Regions from separate parts of the Homo sapiens genome. Here region 2 is linked to region 1. Evidence: fine-mapped expression QTL. Tissue or cell type: whole blood. Region 1 holds a variant in brackets; the other region holds the start of a gene. All regions are shown on one strand. Distances are from middle to middle.

The links. PIP is the estimated chance that this variant, and not a neighbour inherited with it, causes the effect.
Region 2: UCKL1 starts here. The variant in region 1 is fine-mapped to the expression of UCKL1 in whole blood (TOPMed, PIP above 0.99). The same link has a PIP of 0.9 or more in blood mononuclear cells.

What each region holds. Positions count from the first base shown.
Region 1 is chr20:63,926,025-63,936,097 of GRCh38, reverse strand. It overlaps DNAJC5 (DnaJ heat shock protein family (Hsp40) member C5), which reads right to left. Exons shown (of 5, transcript NM_025219.3): 2 at 7,646-7,763; 3 at 6,573-6,786; 4 at 5,076-5,247; 5 at 87-4,633. The coding sequence starts at 7,752. The coding sequence ends at 4,530. Among named protein-coding and RNA genes, the nearest start is that of MIR1914, 10 kb to the left of the region's middle. RefSeq lists an enhancer at 3,361-3,862. The variant G/A (reference allele first, on the strand shown) is at 5,054.
Region 2 is chr20:63,952,435-63,960,499 of GRCh38, reverse strand. UCKL1 (uridine-cytidine kinase 1 like 1) reads left to right here and starts at 4,084. Exons shown (of 15, transcript NM_017859.4): 1 at 4,084-4,240. The coding sequence starts at 4,128. It overlaps ZNF512B (zinc finger protein 512B), which reads left to right. Exons shown (of 17, transcript NM_020713.3): 17 at 361-3,796. The coding sequence ends at 612. It overlaps UCKL1-AS1 (UCKL1 antisense RNA 1), which reads right to left and starts at 7,116. Exons shown (of 1, transcript NR_027287.2): 1 at 3,515-7,116. RefSeq lists enhancers at 2,125-3,010, 3,011-3,898, 3,928-3,987 and silencers at 3,318-3,527, 4,118-4,487, 4,588-4,637, 4,688-4,997.

The DNA of each region.
Region 1 (10,073 bases):
GAGGGCTGAGATCAGCTGCTGCTCTCCAAAACCAGGGATCTGCGGGACTAGCGAGTAAGACATACGTGGGGTCCGCAGTGAAAACATTTATTTTACAACAGTAATCTTTATTTTAGGCCAACATTCAGACATACAAGACGGAGATCACCATGCGGAACCAGCCTGGCCCTTAGATGTGTGTGCTCGAGCCAGGATCAGCCGGAGTCTGACAGCGCCTGCACCCCAACACGGTCGGATTCCAGGACGCCAGTGACAAAACCAGTGCATGGACAAGCAGCTTCCATGCGTGTGCATTTGATTTTTAAAAACAATACATATTTCAGTGTTAACTTCCCCCCTCACCTGGCTTGAAACATTTTCCCCATTTTCCAGGGAAACAAACTCTACCAAAAGGTGCCGCCTGCAGGACCCCGGGCCCAGCCCCTTCTGGAGGTGGTGCTGTGTGGACTCCTCTGGGGCGGACCCGGGGCCAGCACAGGGCCCCTTCCCAGGCCGCCCTTCAGATGCAGCTTTGCCACTGACCGTATCTGCTGCTCAGAAAATCAGCTTTCATGTTTCAAGGCAGGGAAGGGCTTCCAGTCCCCTCCTCGATTTCACACCGGGACACACACCTGGGTCAGGTGAGCATGACACACAGCCCCCAGGATGGGCACCCCACCCTGCAGAGCAGAGGCCAATGCTGGTGGGGGCCGTGGCAGTGCCCTGGGCACACACCCTCTGCACACAGTGGGCTCAGCGCTTCCTTCTGTGCACCTGCTGGGAAAGCCTCCTGCAGGTCCCTGCCCGACTCCCAAGAAACCAGAGGCCATTTCAGAGCCACCTTTAATTGTACTTGTCACTTCACCAGGGGACAGCAGCATGAATGACACTCCTGCTGCGTGATATATACATATACACATATGTACACACACGGACACACCACAGCCCACACTCACAGCATGTGACGACGCAAACTGTTGCTGGTAAGGACAGTAAAAATGTAGCTTTTGCCAATTCCACAGGAGAATGATTTACAACCAAAATAACAGACACAGGCCAGTCCTGCGCCACAGGGGTTCACAGCTCTGAATACTGGGAAAGGGTGAGATCAGTCATTTCGTGTCCCCTCACGAGATGTCCCCACAGTAGGATGCACTGAGTCAGAGCTAAGGGAGGGTGGACAAGCGCTGAACTCTGCCCGCAGCACCCGGACCCTCCAGTGGCAGCCTGCATGCTGGTGCCCTTCCTTGCAGCACAAGCCTCGCCCGGAACAGAACGCCTGAGAGCAGCCTCGACGGCGTGAGGCTCCAGGGCCTCTTCTGGATGGCAGCAGCCGACGTGAAGACGAAGCTTTTCCTGCTGGGCACGTGTGCATGCCAGTTCCTTTTTCTAGTAGGTCCCCACTGGGTGCTGGCTGCACTAACAACATAGAGAACTAGGAAAGTTCACAAACACTGAGCAGTAATATCTAAAGCAGTTTAAAAATAAAGCCAAAAGGAAGACAAAAAAATCCCACGTCACTGAGTGGAGACAAATCTATACAGCAGCAGCTGCCGTGAAAGGGCCCGCAGGGCCGCTCCTACGCCTCCTGCAGGTCGGAAGCAGTCAGTGCTGCCCGGACCCCCTCGTGAACCGGACGGGCCTCAAAGCACGACCCCAGAGGGCCCCTGGCAGCCCCCAGCAGCGGCGTCCAAAGGGACATTCTGTGCCCATGGCCACACTTGCTCACAGCATTGTCTGCGGCCCGAGAGTGAGGAGTCGGGGTCCCGTCACTGCCACCAGCAAAAGCAGGCAGGGGTGCTGGGGGCGTCCTGATCTGTTAGCACGTGGACAGGGAGGCGCGGAAGCTGCCCCAGGACTCACCACCTCTTTTAATTATAGGGAAACAGTCCACTCAAGAAAGAGAGAAATAAAACCCGGGAGGATCTTTTTCCTTAAATTAAGACAAAGCCTTAAAGCCAACAGGGCAGAGCGCTGAAAACGGTTCTGCTTCTAGGTCAGGCAGGGGGAGGAACTCCAGGCCCCGAGTGTCTGGGCTTCCCGGGGGTCGTCTAATCACAATCACCACCGTGAGAATGGCCACAACCATGATTTATTAGGTTTTACAGATTCTGCAGGGGACTGGGTTCCACAAACCTCCAGACCTGCTCCTCTTTCCCACCCTACCCCACCTTCCGCAGGGAGCTGCATGGTTCTACAAAATGGTCCACTGGACTCTGTAACTGAAAAGCCACCTGGCAAGGGGCCCACTCTGATGGGTACCGAAGGGCCTTGGAGTGTTCTAGCCACAGAGCTGTGTGCAGGCCCAACAGAGGGCCTGGTGGGGCTGAGCTAGGGCCCCCGATGGGCAGCTTTCTACCTTAGGTCCAAGCTTAGAACCTGGCTCTTGGCCAGTCTGCGGAAAAATAACTCACGTCCTAAGCTACATCTACAAAAATTGCAAAGGCTGAGTACAGCCAGCATCTCAGGCTGAACTTGCTGCTGCACGAAGCGGCACGGAGGCACCCCACTGTCTCGCCACCTCACCTTTCAGGATGGGCCAAACAATGAATTTCTTATTCTTTTAGGAGAGGTCTGATTTTGATAAATTATTTCTAATTTAATATCACAGTGCATATCTCTCCTCTTGTCAAAGGTCTTCGTGATCATTTTAGTGAGAAGAAACAAAGAAAAGTGGGACAAACAAAGCTGCCCAGGACCTAGTGCTGGCAGCCGGCTCATGGTCCACATGCGGATCTGCAGTAGGGGTCAGCTGGGGGCCCTCAACCAGCACCCTGTTCCTAAGCACGTCCAGATGTATCCTCATATCCATGTCCCTTTTGGCAGCTTCCTGGTCAACCTGAACCTACCCTTCTGCACAGCCTCGGGTGGCTGCTGAGGGCAATGAGTGAGCTGGGGCCACGGGTCAGCAGGCAGGCAGGGAAGGGGGCTTCAGGAGGCTCATCTGGTTGGTCCGAGCCAGAGCCATCACACACAGCCTCCTCCTCAGCTTTATCTCTACAGGGACCTCTGCAACTCTGCAGCGGCCACCATGGACATTCTGCAGAAACCAGGCCCACTGGAGTCTGCAGCATGGCGCCAAAGGCAGGCCCAGCACATCCCATGAGCTACGGAGTGCGGGCAGCTCTGAGCCCTCAGCCAGCACAGGGACATCAGACCCGTTCCCCCTGCTCCCCTATGCAGGGCGCCACCCACAAGGTCTAGGACACGCAAGAGACTGACTTCCCATGGTCCACATGTGGATTCCGTAGTCTGGCTGCTGGCCTCCCAAGGGACCCACAATGGTCCACGTGTGGATTCCGTGGCCTGGCTGCCGGCCTCCCAGGGACCCACAATGGTCCACGTGTGGATTCTGTGGCCTGGCTGCCGGCCTCCCAGGGACCCAACCCTCCTGAGCCAGAGGGTCCCTCTGGTCCAGTCAGTCCTTCCTCCAGGGACCTAACGAATCTGGCTCTGCCTGAATCATCGATGACGGGGCAAAGGCGAGTGGGGCAGATGGGAGCTCTGGCAAACACAGGAGGAGGGGTCGTGGGAGAGCCCCCGTCCCCAGTAGCTGGGTGCTCACACATGCACAATCTACTCTCTGACTGTGGCTCATTGGGCTGGTCCTATCATCTGTGGTTCTAAAGGTCCAAAAAGGGCTATGGAAAGGACAGGTGTGCTGGAAGGAATGTGGAGAACGACCTCAAGATGGGAGGGGGGAGACTGGCCCCATCAATCCAGCTCAGAGCCCGGGAAAAGTGCAGGAACACAGACAAATAACCCCAACACGGCGAAGGACACACCTCCGAGAACCAGAACGGCAGCGTCCACACGACGAGACGACCAGGCGAGAAACACCGCGGAGGACACGGTGTCAACCTCGGAAGGGGCCTCCTATGCTTTCCACACCAAATTCTCCCACGGGAGAAACCCTGCCACAAGGCCCAGGAAACCACAGACCCCCAAGCCAACCATGCCCAGCACAGACACCAAGGAATGACAGTGACGCCGGTGACGCCAGGAGGACGCGGCCCCGCCTCTCTTCTGGCAGGTGAGATCAGAGTCCTACTGCAGCCTCAAGGCTGGGAGCACAGAGTGTGGACCAGACCCCGAGGCCAAGACGGTAACACAGCTCTGCCAGGCAGCACCTGCCTCCGGCCCCTCAAGCACAGGTAGGAAAGGGGCAGCCCCCCTTCTCCTCGCCCACCTGACCGGCTGCAGTCACCCCTCACTGGACCAACCTGACCGACAGCCCTGAGGCAGCTCCACCGTGCAGTTCACGCGGTCATGCCGCGGAATGTCCACAACACAGACATGGAACAGAACCCCATACATGCTATTAAAAAAGGGAAAAAAACAGAAGACCGTAGCTACACTGCTTTAAATACTGCATGCTACGCACTTCGTGGGTCAAGGGTCGACGCTGGGTGGGCGTGGAGGCAGGAGGGGCCCCAGCAAGGCCAGGGCAGGCAGGAGGCTGCCTTCCCATCTCTGTGACTACAGTTCATGATTCTAAGGTTGGCGTGGCCAGGCGCCGGCTCCTCCTCTGACCACAGCTCCTCCTGGATTTAGTTGAACCCGTCAGTGTGGTAGCTGGGGTGGGAGTCGGCTGTGAGCTGGGTGGTCTCGGTGGCGGATGCCGGCTGTATGACGATCGGCGTGTCTGTGGCCTCTGAAAAGCAAGCACACAGGGCACTGCACGAGGGCCACAGCCTGGCGCGCACCCAACGCTGGTCCTGTGGAGCGACTTTCGGGCACCTGGACAAACTCTCCACCGGGAGAGGCTACTCGCTGACCTCCACCCCACACGGCTTTCCTCCGTCGCCTTGGGTCACCGCCAGCCCTCGGCCCTCAGCCCCGCCCCAACTGCCTGCCGCCCTGCCCCGCCTCGCAGTCCCTGGGATCTACGGCTACCGCAGGTCACGGCGGGGACAGCTCTATGCGCCTGCTTTACCTCAGGGTCCACGTTCACACCTCAACAGTCCCAGCTGCCACCACAAACACTCGCGGCACAGTGTCAGTGCCCTCCTGTTTGACAAGACAGGTTGACACCATTCAGGGCCCATTCTGGCTCTGCCCCACACACACACAC[G/A]GGCCCTGGGGCGGGCACTCACCCCTCTCGTCAGACTGCAGCTGTGCCTCCAGATCCTCGGGGGACACGTAGAACTCCGTCTCCTCGCCTTCAGGCGCCTTGGGCTTACACTTCCCGCAGCAGCAGTTGAAGCAGCAGCACAGACAGCAGCAGCAGTAGCAGCACGTGAGGAGGCCGCAGAAGACAAACAGGGCCTGGGGGGAGAAGAAGGTGGTGTTGCATGGCCTCCGAGGCCCCTGGAGAGGGAGGCGCAGGACTCCCAAATGCCCTCAGCAGAAGGCAGGGGGTGCGTTCCAGGTGGGGATACTGCCTTCCAGACAGGAAGCAGAAGGAAAGAACTGAAGAAGGGAGGAGGAGAGACAGAAAGAAACCCGCAGCTTAAAGAAAAGCAGCCTCCAAGACGGGCGTGGTGGCCCATGCCTGTCATCCCAGCACTCCAGGAGGCCGAGGCTGGCGGATCACGAGGTCAGGAGATCGAGACCATCCTGGCTAACACGGTGAAACCCTGTCTCTACTAAAAATACAAAAAATTAGCTGGACGTGGTGGCGGGCACCTGTAGTCCCAGCCACTCGGGAGGCAGAGGCAGGAGAATGGCGTGAACCCGGGAGGTGGAGCTTGCAGTGAGCCAAGATCGCGCCACTGCACTCCAGCCTGGGAAACAGAGCGAGACTCCGTCTCAAAAAAAAAACAAAGCAGCCTCCAGGCTGGGCACAGTGGTTCACGCCTCAACTCCTGCAGTTCTGGAGCTGAAGTGGGAGGATCACTTGAACCCAGGAATTCAAAGTTAAAGTGAGCCAGGATCTCACCACAGCACTCCAGTCTGGGCAACAGAGCGAGACTCTGTCTAACATTAACTAAATAAAAAGTACTTTATAAGGATTCTAGTGAGGAGGCCGACCAGTCAAAGCCAAATACAGGCTTCTCACAAATGCCATGCAGTGATTCCAACCCTCTGGCCTCATATATGACATTTGGAACAAAACGAGGAAACGAAGAAATGCGGATGTAACATCGAGGCTTATTTCCTCCTGTCTCACGAAGGACTGGGAGCCATTTACAGAAGAAACCCTGGCGGCTCCGCACGGCTCTTCCCTGGGACAATCTGTACGCTATGGCTTGTTCCAGGCAGGACACCAAGCCAGTGACAGAGCTTCGCCCATCACACAGGTGAGGAGAAAGGCTCCATATGCCCAGAAGCCTTTTCTCAGGAGTGTAGAGTTGCTGGCATCAACGCATGGGCTCTGCAATGCTGGGAACCCTGCAGGCGTGGAGTGACCCGGGTGCCCACATGGCAGGAGAGACTCGGGTGCCCGCACGGCAGGAGTGACTCGGGCGCCCGCACGGCAGGAGTGACTCGGGTGCCCGCACGGCAGGAGAGACTCGGGTGCCCGCACGGCAGGAGAGACTCGGGTGCCCGCACGGCAGGAGTGACTCGGGTGCCCGCACGGCAGGAGAGACTCGGGTGCCCGCACGGCAGGAGTGACTCGGGTGCCCGCACGGCAGGCAGCTCGCCCTCACCTTGGCCCACCAGCTGGACAGCACGAAGTAGGTGTTCACGTTCTCTTCCCCAAACTGCTCGGCCACGTAGAGACCCAGCGAGCCGTACTTGTCGTAGATGTTCCTTTTTGTGGCGTCCGTGAGGATGGCGTGCGCGTTGTTGATCTCCTTAAACTTGTCCGCGGCCTCCGGGTTGTCGGGGTTCTTGTCGGGGTGATATTTCAAGGCAAGCTTCCTGCAAACCAAAACCATGTCCTGGCTCTACCCTGGACTTTGTTCCACCCGCACCCGCCGCCGCGTCCATCCCACCCGCACGCACTGCCGGGTGCAGTGGAAGGCAGGTCCACCCAGGCCACCTCACTGTCCGACTCTCCAGGGCTGCAGGGGCCAGGGACAAAAGCAAGCTCCGCGGTTGTTTCAGGTAAACCTCCTCACCCTGACCCAGCCTCAGAGGAGGGAGCCCCAAGGGCTGTGAGTGCCACGGCACATCTAAGTTCAGCGGCACCAAGGCCAGCCCTGGTGTCCCAGCCGCTAACTGCACAAGTGCCAAGTGAACGGTAAGCACGGCGGGGCGTAATGATGGCACTTTAAGAAGTGTTTTATGAACTACACGATGCTAGCACACGAGAGGAGGACTATCTGAATTGTCTGGATTAGTGATGGTGTCTCTTACAGGTTACTCAATGAAACTGTACCCAAGAGTGCAGTTCTTCAAGCTCAATCAGAAGGCCACAACAGAGTGAGGGGTCTCTGTCATCACTGTGCTAAAACAAGGAGACCACAGGACCATGCCAGCGCTCTGCGGCTCCTGTGAGGCCTCAAACAGGTTCAGACCCTGACTCCCTATGGAACTGTGGACAGTGTGTCAGTTTCTACTAAGTGCTATTTTTTGTTGGCAAGAGAACATGAATACCATAACTTTAAGCTATAAGGAGCACATTACACATACAAAGGTGTTACCGAGCTGTGACCAGTTCAACGCTGAGTCGGCCAGGATAAAGTATGTGCAATGGTTCTTGGTAAAATGCAGACTAAACCACACGGGGCATGTGTGTCTTCCTGGGGGGATGTGGGGGCCACACTTGTCCACTTACCGATAGGACTTTTTAATGTCATCTGAGGTTGCGTTCTTGTCCAACCCAAGGACGTGGTACAATGACTCCCCAGAGGTAGACAGTGAGCGCTGTCTCTGGTCTGCCATGTTAGGCTATTCTAGAAGAAAAAATAAAAAGAAAGTATCACAAAGTATAGATGAAAGTACCAAGGGCAGAGCTGATGGACTTTATTCCATAAGACCGTTCAAAGCAAAAGAATCCAACACTGCCTTGTGGAGTTTGCCACGTGCACAGACAGACGCCATGGCATGGAGAAGTGTGAGACGGCAGAATACGGCCACCCCAAGAGATCCTGAAGAACTGCAGCTGTGTACTGTGGGCCGGCACAGGGGCTCACACCTGTAGTCCCAGCATTTTGGGAGGCTGAGGCGGGAGGACCGCTTGAGCCCAGGAGTTTGAGGCTGCAGTGAGCTATGATCACTCCACTGCACTGGAGCCCAGGAGACAGGGACCCTGTTCCTTAAAAACAAATATATAAATAAACAAAATAAATTAATTAATTAAAATAAACATGCATATTGTAATCCTTACAGCAACCTCTGCATAAAAAATGCAAAGAGGTATAAGCTAAAAAGTTACAAGAAAAATGAAAAAGTAACTCAACACAGGAAACAAATAGAAAATTAGTTGGAAGATCTAAATCCAAACATATCAACAATTAAATTCAATGTTAGTGGACAAAAAACTCCAATTAAAGTAAGGGACTGACAGAATGGATAAAAATGCAAGACCCAACTTTAATTTTAATACTTTCTCAGAAATCGACAGAACAGACCAAAAATCAGGAAAAACATCGATGTTCTGAACAACACTATCAACCACCATGACCTGATCTTCACAGAACACCCAACATCTAGAGAACACACAGTTTCTTTCTTTCTTTTTTGGGGGGGGGGACAGTTTTGCTCTTGTTGCCCAGGCTGGAGTGCAATGGCACGATCTCGGCTCACCACAACCTCCGCCTCCCCGGTTCAAGCAATGCTCCTGCCTCAGCCTCACACAGGAGTAGCTGGGATTACAGGCATGTGCCACCACACCCAGCTAATTTTGGTATTTTTAGTAGAGATGGGGTTTCTCCATGTTGGCCAGGCTGGTCTTGAATTCCCGACCTCAGGCTGAACTCCCGACCTCAGGTGATCCGCCTGCCTCAGCCTCCCACAGTGCTGGGGTTATAGGTGTGAGCCACAGCGCCTGGCAAATACACATTGTTTCTACATTGTTTCTAACTAATCAACCACCATGACGTGACAGTCACAGAACACCCAACATCTAGAGAACACACATTGTTTTTAACTGAATGCTGTACACTAAGACAAGCCACATGTTAGGGCTTCAAGCTGGTTTCAATAAACGTAATGGAATGAGGTCACACACAGCACTATCCCTGACTTAGCTACAAACTGGAAACCCAGGAGGAAGATACTCTTGATATTCAACAACACACCTCCGGCTAACATGTAGCTCAAAGAAGAAATCCCAGGGGAACTTAGAAAATGTTTTGAATTGAATAATAAATACAGTGTACATGACGGTTAATTTCATGTCTCCTTTGCTGCATCGTGGGGCACCCAGATGAAACATGACTTCAGGGTGTGCCTGGGAGGGTGTTTCTTGGTAAGAGCAGCACCTGAGCTGGGGGCTCCATGAAGCCAACTGCGCTGCCCTGTGCAGGTGAGTGTCGTCCCAGTCCACGGGGGTCCCGAATAGAAAGGGGTGGGAGGAGGAGTTGGCCTGGGTTTTCCTTCTCGCCTGCCAGCCTGAGCGGGGCCACGTGTCTCCTCCTGTCCTTGGACTGTTATTATCCCACTGCTTTCCTCAATCTTCAGCAAATGGCAGAGCATGAGATTCCGTCTCCATAATGACGTGGGCCAATTCCTCATAACAAATCTCCTTTAGAAAGAGACACAGATAATGGCAACGTTCCTCTGCAGAATGCTGACTAGTACAACACGTTAATCAAGGCCTAAGGCTCCGCCTCAGGAAGCTACAAAGTAACAGGATAAACCCAACATAAATGCAAGCAAGGAAATCATAAGGAACAGAAATCCATGAAAACAAACAGATAACTTCAACAAAGCCAAAAGAGTTGGTTCTTTGAGCAACATGAGGAAAGACATCACTACAGATCCTAGAGGCGTGAAAAGGATAAAATACGAACAACTTCATGCCAAGAAATTAGAAAAATTAGATGAAATGGACAAATATCTTGAAAATTACAATTTACCAAGACTGACATGAAATAGAAAATCTGAATAGGCCTGCATCTGTTAATAAAGTTATATTTGTAATAAAAAATCCCCAGAAGGCCAGGCGCCGTGGCTCACGCCTGTAATCCCAGCACTTTGGGAGGCCAAGGCGGGCAGATCACGAGATCAGGAGATTGAGACCATCCTGGCTAACACAGTGA
Region 2 (8,065 bases), 25 kb before region 1:
CCTGCCTGGTCCTGAAGGCTGTGTCCAGCCCCCTGCTGCAGGTGCTTGCCTGGTCCAGAAGGCTGTGTCCAGCCCTGCTGCAGGTGCTTGCCTGGTCCCGAAGGCTGTGTCCAGCCCTGCTGCAGGTGCTTGCCTGGTCCCGAAGGCTGTGTCCAGCCCCCTGCAGGTGCTTGCCTGGTCCCGAAGGCTGTGTTCAGCCCCCTGCTGCAGGTGCCTGCCTGGTCCTAAAGGCTGTGTCCAGCCCTGCTGCAGGTGCTTGCCTGGTCCTGAAGGCTGACAGGTCTTCAGCTCTCAGGCTATGCCTGGCTCAGGTGCTCAGCATCCAGTCCCAGGTCTTCATCAGCGCTTTTCTCTCCCCAGAACTGGTTCCGAACATCAGCAGACCCACCTCCCAAACACAGGAGCCAGGACTCATTGGTGCCCAAGAAGGAAAAGAAGAAAAATCTGGCAGGTGGAAAGAAGCGGGGCCGAAAGCCCAAGGAGCGGACCCCAGAGGAGCCTGTGGCCAAGCTGCCCCCGCGCCGGGACGACTGGCCTCCAGGATGCAGAGACAAGGGGGCCCGGGGCTCCACCGGCCGGAAGGTGGGAGTCAGCAAGGCGCCTGAAAAGTGAGCATGGTGCGTGGGGCCTGGCCCCCATGCAGCCGCCACACCGCCCTCTGTTCAAGGCAGGGCCAGCTCCGGGACCTCTGTCCTCCAGTTCTCCATCCCCCACCCCCGCCTCTTCATCCGTCCAGTGGGGCAGCCAGCCACTCTCCCTTCCCTGAAGGTGGCCCTTCCCCTGTTAAGGCTGCCACAGGGCACACCTGGGTTGGGGCTCCCCAAGGTGTGCCCAGCAGAAGTGCAATAGCCAGGAGGGTTGCCCCTCCTCATGGGAATGTGTCTGGGGTCTTGGTGCCACAGGGGCTGCAGCGCAGAGTAGGCAGATGGCCTTTGGCCCCCCGGCTCCGCTTCCTCAGGCCCTGCCGGGTCCCTTCCCTGGCTACCCCAAGGCTCAGGCATCCCTGGTGACCTGTGGTTCTGGGCTGGTGAGGGCACCTGAGCAACCTGGCACGGGCAGCCACCATCCTGGCCTCACCTCCACCCAACACTGGAACTCCAGCACCCCCAGCTACCTCCCAGGACAGACCCCTGTCTGACCACTGCCATGCTGACCTGACAGGCTCCGGCCTGCCCTTGGCCACCCACTTGGTCCCCTTGCTTCTGTTTTCTACCTCTCCAGGCCTGCCCACTACCCCCACCCCTGCTCCTCCTTTGTCAGTGCGATCCCTGCTGTGCTCAGGCCCTGCCCCCCAGGCCTGTCTGTAATTCTCCCAGCTTGGGGCAAGGGAGGGGTTTTGCTTCTTGTACCTACAGGGCAGCAGAAGCTTGATGCCCTTCAACACAGCTGCCAGCCCTGGGGGTGTGGGGCCCCTGGAGTGTGCTCTCCTCCAGTGTTCAGCCTTCTGGCACTGCAGGCCTAGGTTGGAGCAGCCTCGTGGAGTAGGGACGGACTAGTTCGGGCCCTGGGGTCTTGCTGGGGCCCATAGGCATGTGGGGCAGGAAGCTGGGCAGAGCTGGCCTGGCTCTGAGTGGCCACTGGGGGAAAGGCAGCCTTCTGTCTGCCAATCTGGGTAGGCCCAGTGGCCAAGCTCTCATGGGAGCCCCCTCCCCACTTTTTTTTTTAACCTGCCCCCATTGTTTCTGGTTGTGTGGTCATTTGATATGGGAACTGAAGGCCAGCCAGGGGAGGGGCTTGGCCAAAGTCACAGCAGGTTGATGGCAGCTCCAGAGCTGTCTTTGCCCCTTTGTGGCCCTGAGGACGGCTGGGTCTATAGGTAGGGCAGGGGTCAGGCAGGGAGTCCAGGGTGCCTGGAAGAGGTGGCCACAGCCTGTGGCTCCCTCCCTGGGGTCCTGCCTTCCAACCACGGCATTGCAGGGAGGATGAGGCTCAGAGGGGGTAGGTTTGGAGGGAGGCCATTTTCCAGGGTGGGTGGGAGTGGGCTGAGGGCTCGGCCCCACTGACCCTGGACGATGAGAATTTTGATGTTTGCCCGTGTGCGTGTGTCTCCTGGGTGTAGTGGATGCCAGTCTTGTTGCTGTGACAAGTAACAACCTTTTTTTTAAATTGTTTTTTATACAAACACTCGCAATCCGACATTTGGTGCTAAGGGTTTCCTGGTGCAGACGGTGGGCCTGGGGGCTGGGCTGGACCAGGGCGTGGGTCTCTGGGGTTGGGGTCCCTTGCTGCTCAGGGAGGCAGTACTGACTGGGCACTGCCTCTGCCCCCAGCACCCACCCTCCCCCATTCCCCAGGGAGAAGGGGCCCCACTGGGCTTGGCCTGCAGTAGTAGGGAGACAAGTTCCAGGAGCACTTTGGGGACTGGGGTTGCAGAACACTTCCTGTCTCTGGCTTCATCCTTGGGCCAGAAGGCTCCAACCCTCAGCAGCCCTTGCCAGATGTGCCAGGGAGTGGGTGTGGAGACCCGGACTCCCCCCACCCACGCACACCTCGGCCTGATGAGAGGATGGAGGCTGGGGCAGAGATGGGCGTGACCCAGCGTCAGAGGGTCGGGGGAGGCATTCCTTCCTGTGTCCCAGAGCTTCACTGGTGGAGCTGGAGGAGCCGGAGGTGGAGGGTGGGGTCTGGCAGCTGCTGCTGGGGCAGCCTCATGAGGGGAGGGGAGGGGAGGGGAGGGGAGCAGGCACTGGGCGGGGGCCTAGGTGCACTTTGTCCTTGCCACCAATGGCGGGAGGAGGGTGGACCTGAACACCTGCAGGGTGTGGTGCCTGCCCCAGCCTCTCAGGTACTTGGCCCTTGGGGAGAAGAGAAGAGGGTCTGGTTTTTGCTGGGGGTGAGTTTCCGGGACACTCCCAAAGCCCACAGATAATCCCTGGTGTGGGAAGAGGAGTCCTGGATACCTTGATGTTTAGCACTTTAACCCCCTTTGTCTTTAAGGTAGGCGTGGGGGCTACTGCCAGAAGTGGCTGTTGGGTCTGACCCCCTCCTTTCTGCCCTCCCTCTGCCACATGCTGGTCCGCAGAGCCCTCCTCCCAAGGGGTGGGGCCCTGGGTGGAGCTCAGCAGGGTCTGCCCACTCCCTACGCTGGCCCACATAGGCCTCCAGGAGCCCTCAGTGAGAGGGACCAGCATAGCTGACCCCCAGAGTGTGGTGGGCGCCGGCCCTGCCCGAGGCCCAGTCGGGGCCCTTTCTGCAGATCTACCTCTGGCTCAGCGCACGCCCCCTGCCCTGAGAACAGGAAAGGGCCCGGAAGGGCTGACTCACCGGGCCGACGCTCACACGAAAATGGGATGCACTTTATTTGCTGGTGCAAAGGCAGGTGAGGGTGCCTCCTGTGTGACCGTTGGCCCTCCTGCCTGGTGGCGCTGAAGGGAAGGAGCCAGTGAGCCTGACCCCGGGAGGGGCCGTCCCCGTGTGCCGCGTTTGGCGGGGCCCCAGGCGGCTCCCCCAGGCCCGGGTCTGGGGCCCCAGGCTTTCCCCTGCCTCGCGGCCGGGCGTCCCGTGCTTTGGGTTTCTTGGTTTGGGTTTTTTAATGCCAGTTCTCAGTACATAAGTGCATTTTGAAAGAGGTTCCAGCTATCACTTGTAACCATATATATATACATATATATTCTATCTACAAAGTGTTTATTTGCGAGATGTTTCAACGGTGAGTTCGGGCCCCGCCCGCCTTGTGACCATCTGTCCCCGGTCCTCGTCCCCGCCCCGCGCCCTGGTCCCGAGTGGCGTGGGGACGGGCCATCACTGTATGTATTAAAATGACTGTATCAAATAAATGTTTATTGATTTTTTTCCAGGGTTTTTGTGCGGCTCAGTTTGTGGTGAAAAACAGGGGGCGGGGCCCTCCAGGCACGTGGCGGAGGCTGCCGAACTACGGGTCCCCCATGCCCGCCGCGCGGCCTTGTGGGGCTTGTAGTCCGCGACGCGCGGCCTTGTGGGGCTTGTAGTCCGCGACGCGCGGCCTTGTGGGGCTTGTAGTCCGCGACGCGCGGCCTTGTGGGGCTTGTAGTCCGCGACGCGCGGCCTTGTGGGGCTTGTAGTCCGCGGTGGGCAAGAGAGGGACCCGCCAGCTCCCGGCGGCCCATGCGCGCCGCCCGGCCAGGCCCGCAAAGAGGCCTCCGAGCGCCATGGCTGCGCCCCCGGCCCGCGCGGACGCTGATCCTTCGCCCACGTCGCCACCTACGGCCCGAGACACACCAGGCCGGCAGGCTGAGAAAAGCGAGACCGCGTGCGAGGACCGGTAGGCGTGGGCCTCGCCTCCACTCCACTGGCGAGCGGGAAGGGGCTGCAGATCCGGCCGAGCTGGGCGGGTGGTCCGTCCCCGCCGCGAGCCCAAGTCCCCCACTCCCGGAGGCCAGGCGGCGGCGCCCCGTTCTCCCACGTGCCGGGTGGAACCCCGCGGGCTTGAAGCGGCCGGGAGGACGGACCTGGCCCAAGCCGGCAGGCTCCTCGGGGCTCGGGGAAGGAGTCCGGGTGCGCACCCCCAGCGTTGACCTTGGTCTCTGCCCCCGGTGGGTGGGGCCCTCGGCCTCGAGCGCCCGGCGGGCTGTGTGCCTGCTCGACTGTGCGAGTTGGTCTATGTTGTCGGCTCGGGGTGTGGCCCTGCCCGACCCGCGAGGCCAGGGCTTAGGATTTGGAGGTGCTGCGGCGCACGGTGCCTTCGGATTGCCTCGCACGCGCGTGGCACCTTCGAGCCTCTGCGGGGGCTTTGCAAGAGCATGAAGTGGGGAAGTTGTGGGGGTGCAGCGGGAGGAACCCGCCCCCACCCCGGTTCGTCACCCCGAGTGGCCCCTCTGGGAGCCGGGCCCTGCGCGGCGCCTTTGGGGCCGTGGCCGTCAGGGGGCGGTGGCCACGCAGTGCCCGGGGCTGCAAGAGGGCGCTCTGGGCGCTGCCCCTCCCTTCCGGGTCTGAAGTGTCCCTTGGGGAGCCCGCGGGGTCCCCAGGAAGGGGTTGTTCCCACTCAGGCGCCTCTTGCCTGGGTTCAGGCTGTGACTCCTGTCAGAAACGCTGTGAGCCAGGACTCCCTCAGAGATGGGCTGCGCTGGATGCCGCAGGGGGAAGGGTGTCCCGGCACAGGGTCGCTCCTCTCCAGGAGCTGCTGAGCAGAAAGAGCTTTCCCCTGGCCCTGCGTCCCTTCAGGTCCACACCCTCCCAGTGGGCAGTGACTAGGAACTTTGCATGGCTGGAGTCTAATAGGGCCTGAGTCTGTTCCTCTGCTGGTTCCAAAGAGGCGTTGTTTTTTTGTTTTGAGATGGAGTCTCACTCTGTCGCCCAGGCTGGAGTGCAGTGGCTCGATCTCGGCTCACTGCAACCTCCCTTTCCCGAGCTCAGTTCAAGCAATTCTCCTGCCTCAGCCTCCCGAGTAGCTGGAATTACAGGTGTGCGCCACCACGCCCGGCTAATTTTTTTTTGTATTTTTAGTAGAGAGGTATTTTGTCAGGTTGTCCAGGCTGGTCTCCAACTCCTGACCTCAGGTGATCTGCCCGCCTCGGCCTCCGTGGGATTACAGGCGTGAGCCACCGCGCCCAGCCACCAAAGAGGTTTTGATTTAACCCGAGGTGGGGCAGGCCAACGCTAGATAAGCACTGAGAGCTCTTGAGAAAGGCACTCCTGGATGACACAGGTTGGTGGCAGCAGCCATCTGGGCCTGCCCTGTGCACAGACGGTGGGCTGGGCACGGTGGCCCTCGCTGTGTCCCACGAGGCAGAGACTGTTGTTATCTTTCTTTGGTGTGGTTACCAAGGGACAGGAGGGAAGCTCCAGGCAGTGAGGATAGATTGCAGCACCCTTCTCCAGGGGCCCCGGTCTGCCCTGGAACTGCCTCTTGTCTTAGGCACATTTCTTGCACTTTGTGTCCTGATGCTTGTGCCATCGAGGACTTCCTCTGCCCCAGCCTAGGGCTTTTCTCACTGTTCCCCGAGCGTGTCCCCAACGTTCCTGCGTCTGCCCCTCTTCAACCTCTGCTGCTGCCCTTAGTGTTCCAGAGCAGGCTCCAGCTTGGAGGTCTGTGCACGGGTGGAGGTCTGTCCCCAGGGCTGGGGTTCCTCCACCACCGTTCCAGTGCCTCCTGCCACATCCTCCCGGCAATCAGTCTGTCCATCTTGCCTGTTGTTTATTGTCTGCTTGCCACTCGTGACTCTGTCCTGGGCACCTGCCCCCAGAGCTGGCCCGTGCTGGTGCAGGAACAGGTCCTTTGTGGTGTTAGCAGTGACTCCTGGCTGCGGTTGAGATGGAGTCTGGGGCTGTGGAAGTGGGGAGCAGAGGGAGGCTGCCCATGATCTGTGCAGGGCAGGTCCTGCTGAGGGAAGGTTTCCTGAGTGGTGGGGTGGGCCAGGGCAAGCCCCCAACCCCCAGTGCTCATCCAGCCTGAGAAAGCAGCCCTAATGACTCTCCCTGAGTCAGTCCGGCACCAGTGGGGTCAGGCCTGCATTGGCTCCTGTGGGCTAGCTCCTCCCTGCTCCCTCCTCCCCCCAGCCTCATTTTAGTTATCCAGCAAACTTCCCTTAAACCTGACCTGTCAGGAGGTGCCGTGCTACAGGCACCCAGCAGGAAGGTCCGTGGGCGATGGTGACCCCAGGGGTGGTAGAACAGGCCTGAACCACAGCAAGGGAGTGCCCGAGCCTTCCTTTCTCCCTGTGTGCTCTCTCCCGTGGCTGTTTCCTCAGTGTCGGTTTCACATGCCCTGCGCTCCCTGCTGCTGGACGTTTGCTTCTGGTTTCCTTGGCATTGTGGATGGTTCGTGAGGGGCAGCCCTGCCTCCAGGTCTCCACACATGCCTGTGCTTATTTTTCTTCCTTTCTTTTTTTTTTGGAGATAGAGTCCTGGGCTGGAGTGCAATGGCACCATCTCGGCTCACTGCAACCTCCGCCTCCCGGGTTCAAGCAGTTCTCCTGCCTCAGCCTCCCGAGTAGCTGGGACTACAGGCGCCCGCCACCACGCCCAGCTAATTTTTTGTATTTTTAGTAGAGACGGGGTTTCACCATGTTGGCCAGGCTGGTCTTGAACTCCTGACCTCAGATGATCTGCCCGCTCAGCCTCTGAAAGTGCTGGGATTACAGGCGTGAGCCACTGCACCCGGCTGCCTGTGTGTATTTCTTTTGTTTTGTTTTGTTTTGTTTTTGAGATGGAGTTTTGCTCTTGTTGCCCAGGCTGGATTGCAGTGGCGCAATCTCAGCTCACAGCAACCTCTGCCTCCCGGGTTCAAGCAATTCTCCTGCCTCAGCCTCCCAAGTAGCTGGGATTACAGGCATGTGCCACTACGCCCGGCTAATTTTGTGTTTTTAGTAGAGACAGGGTTTCTCCATGTTGGTCAGGCTGGTCTCAAACGCCCAACCTCAGGTGATCCACCTGCCTTGGCCTCCCAAAGTGCTGGGATTACAGGCATGTGCCACCGTGCCCAGCTAATTTTGTATTTCTAGTAGAGATAAGGTTTCTCCACGTTGAGGCTGGTCTCAAACTCCGACCTTGGGTGATCCGCCCGCCTCGGCCTCCCACAGTGCTGGGATGACAGGCGTGAGCCACCGCGCCCGGCCACCTGTGCCTATTTCTTGACGATGACATCAGTTATGGGGCCTGATCACCGATGAGGCATCTGCCTTGGACTTTATGAGCTGACCCACCTGTAATGAACCTGCTGTTAGTCCTTGAGGAGGAAACTGAGGCAAGCTGTGGCTCCGTGGAGGGGACTGAGCCACATTCGACTGTGCTGTGGCCCAGAGTAGGATGGCTGAAGGTGAGGGAAGGGCAAGGGGTGCCCTGAAGTGACTGAGGCAGCCTCCAGCACCACGGGCCTCAGACAGCCCCACCTGCAAGGAGGAAGCCTTAGGCAGAAGGTGCTCTGGGCAGCGCTTACCCCAGCGCGGCATCAGCACCTGTGGGTGGCGTGGGAATGGGAGTTCTCTGGACCGGCCCAGCTCAGGAAGTTAGAACCTGGGAGGAACACCAGTGAATAGGACCAGGGCAGGCTACCCCTCCCCACCGTGAGCGGCCCCTCCCTGCCGTGGGCTGCTGTGGCCGAGAGCAGCCCCGTGGAGGGGCATGTTGGGGACCACGTGGCCTGCAGCGA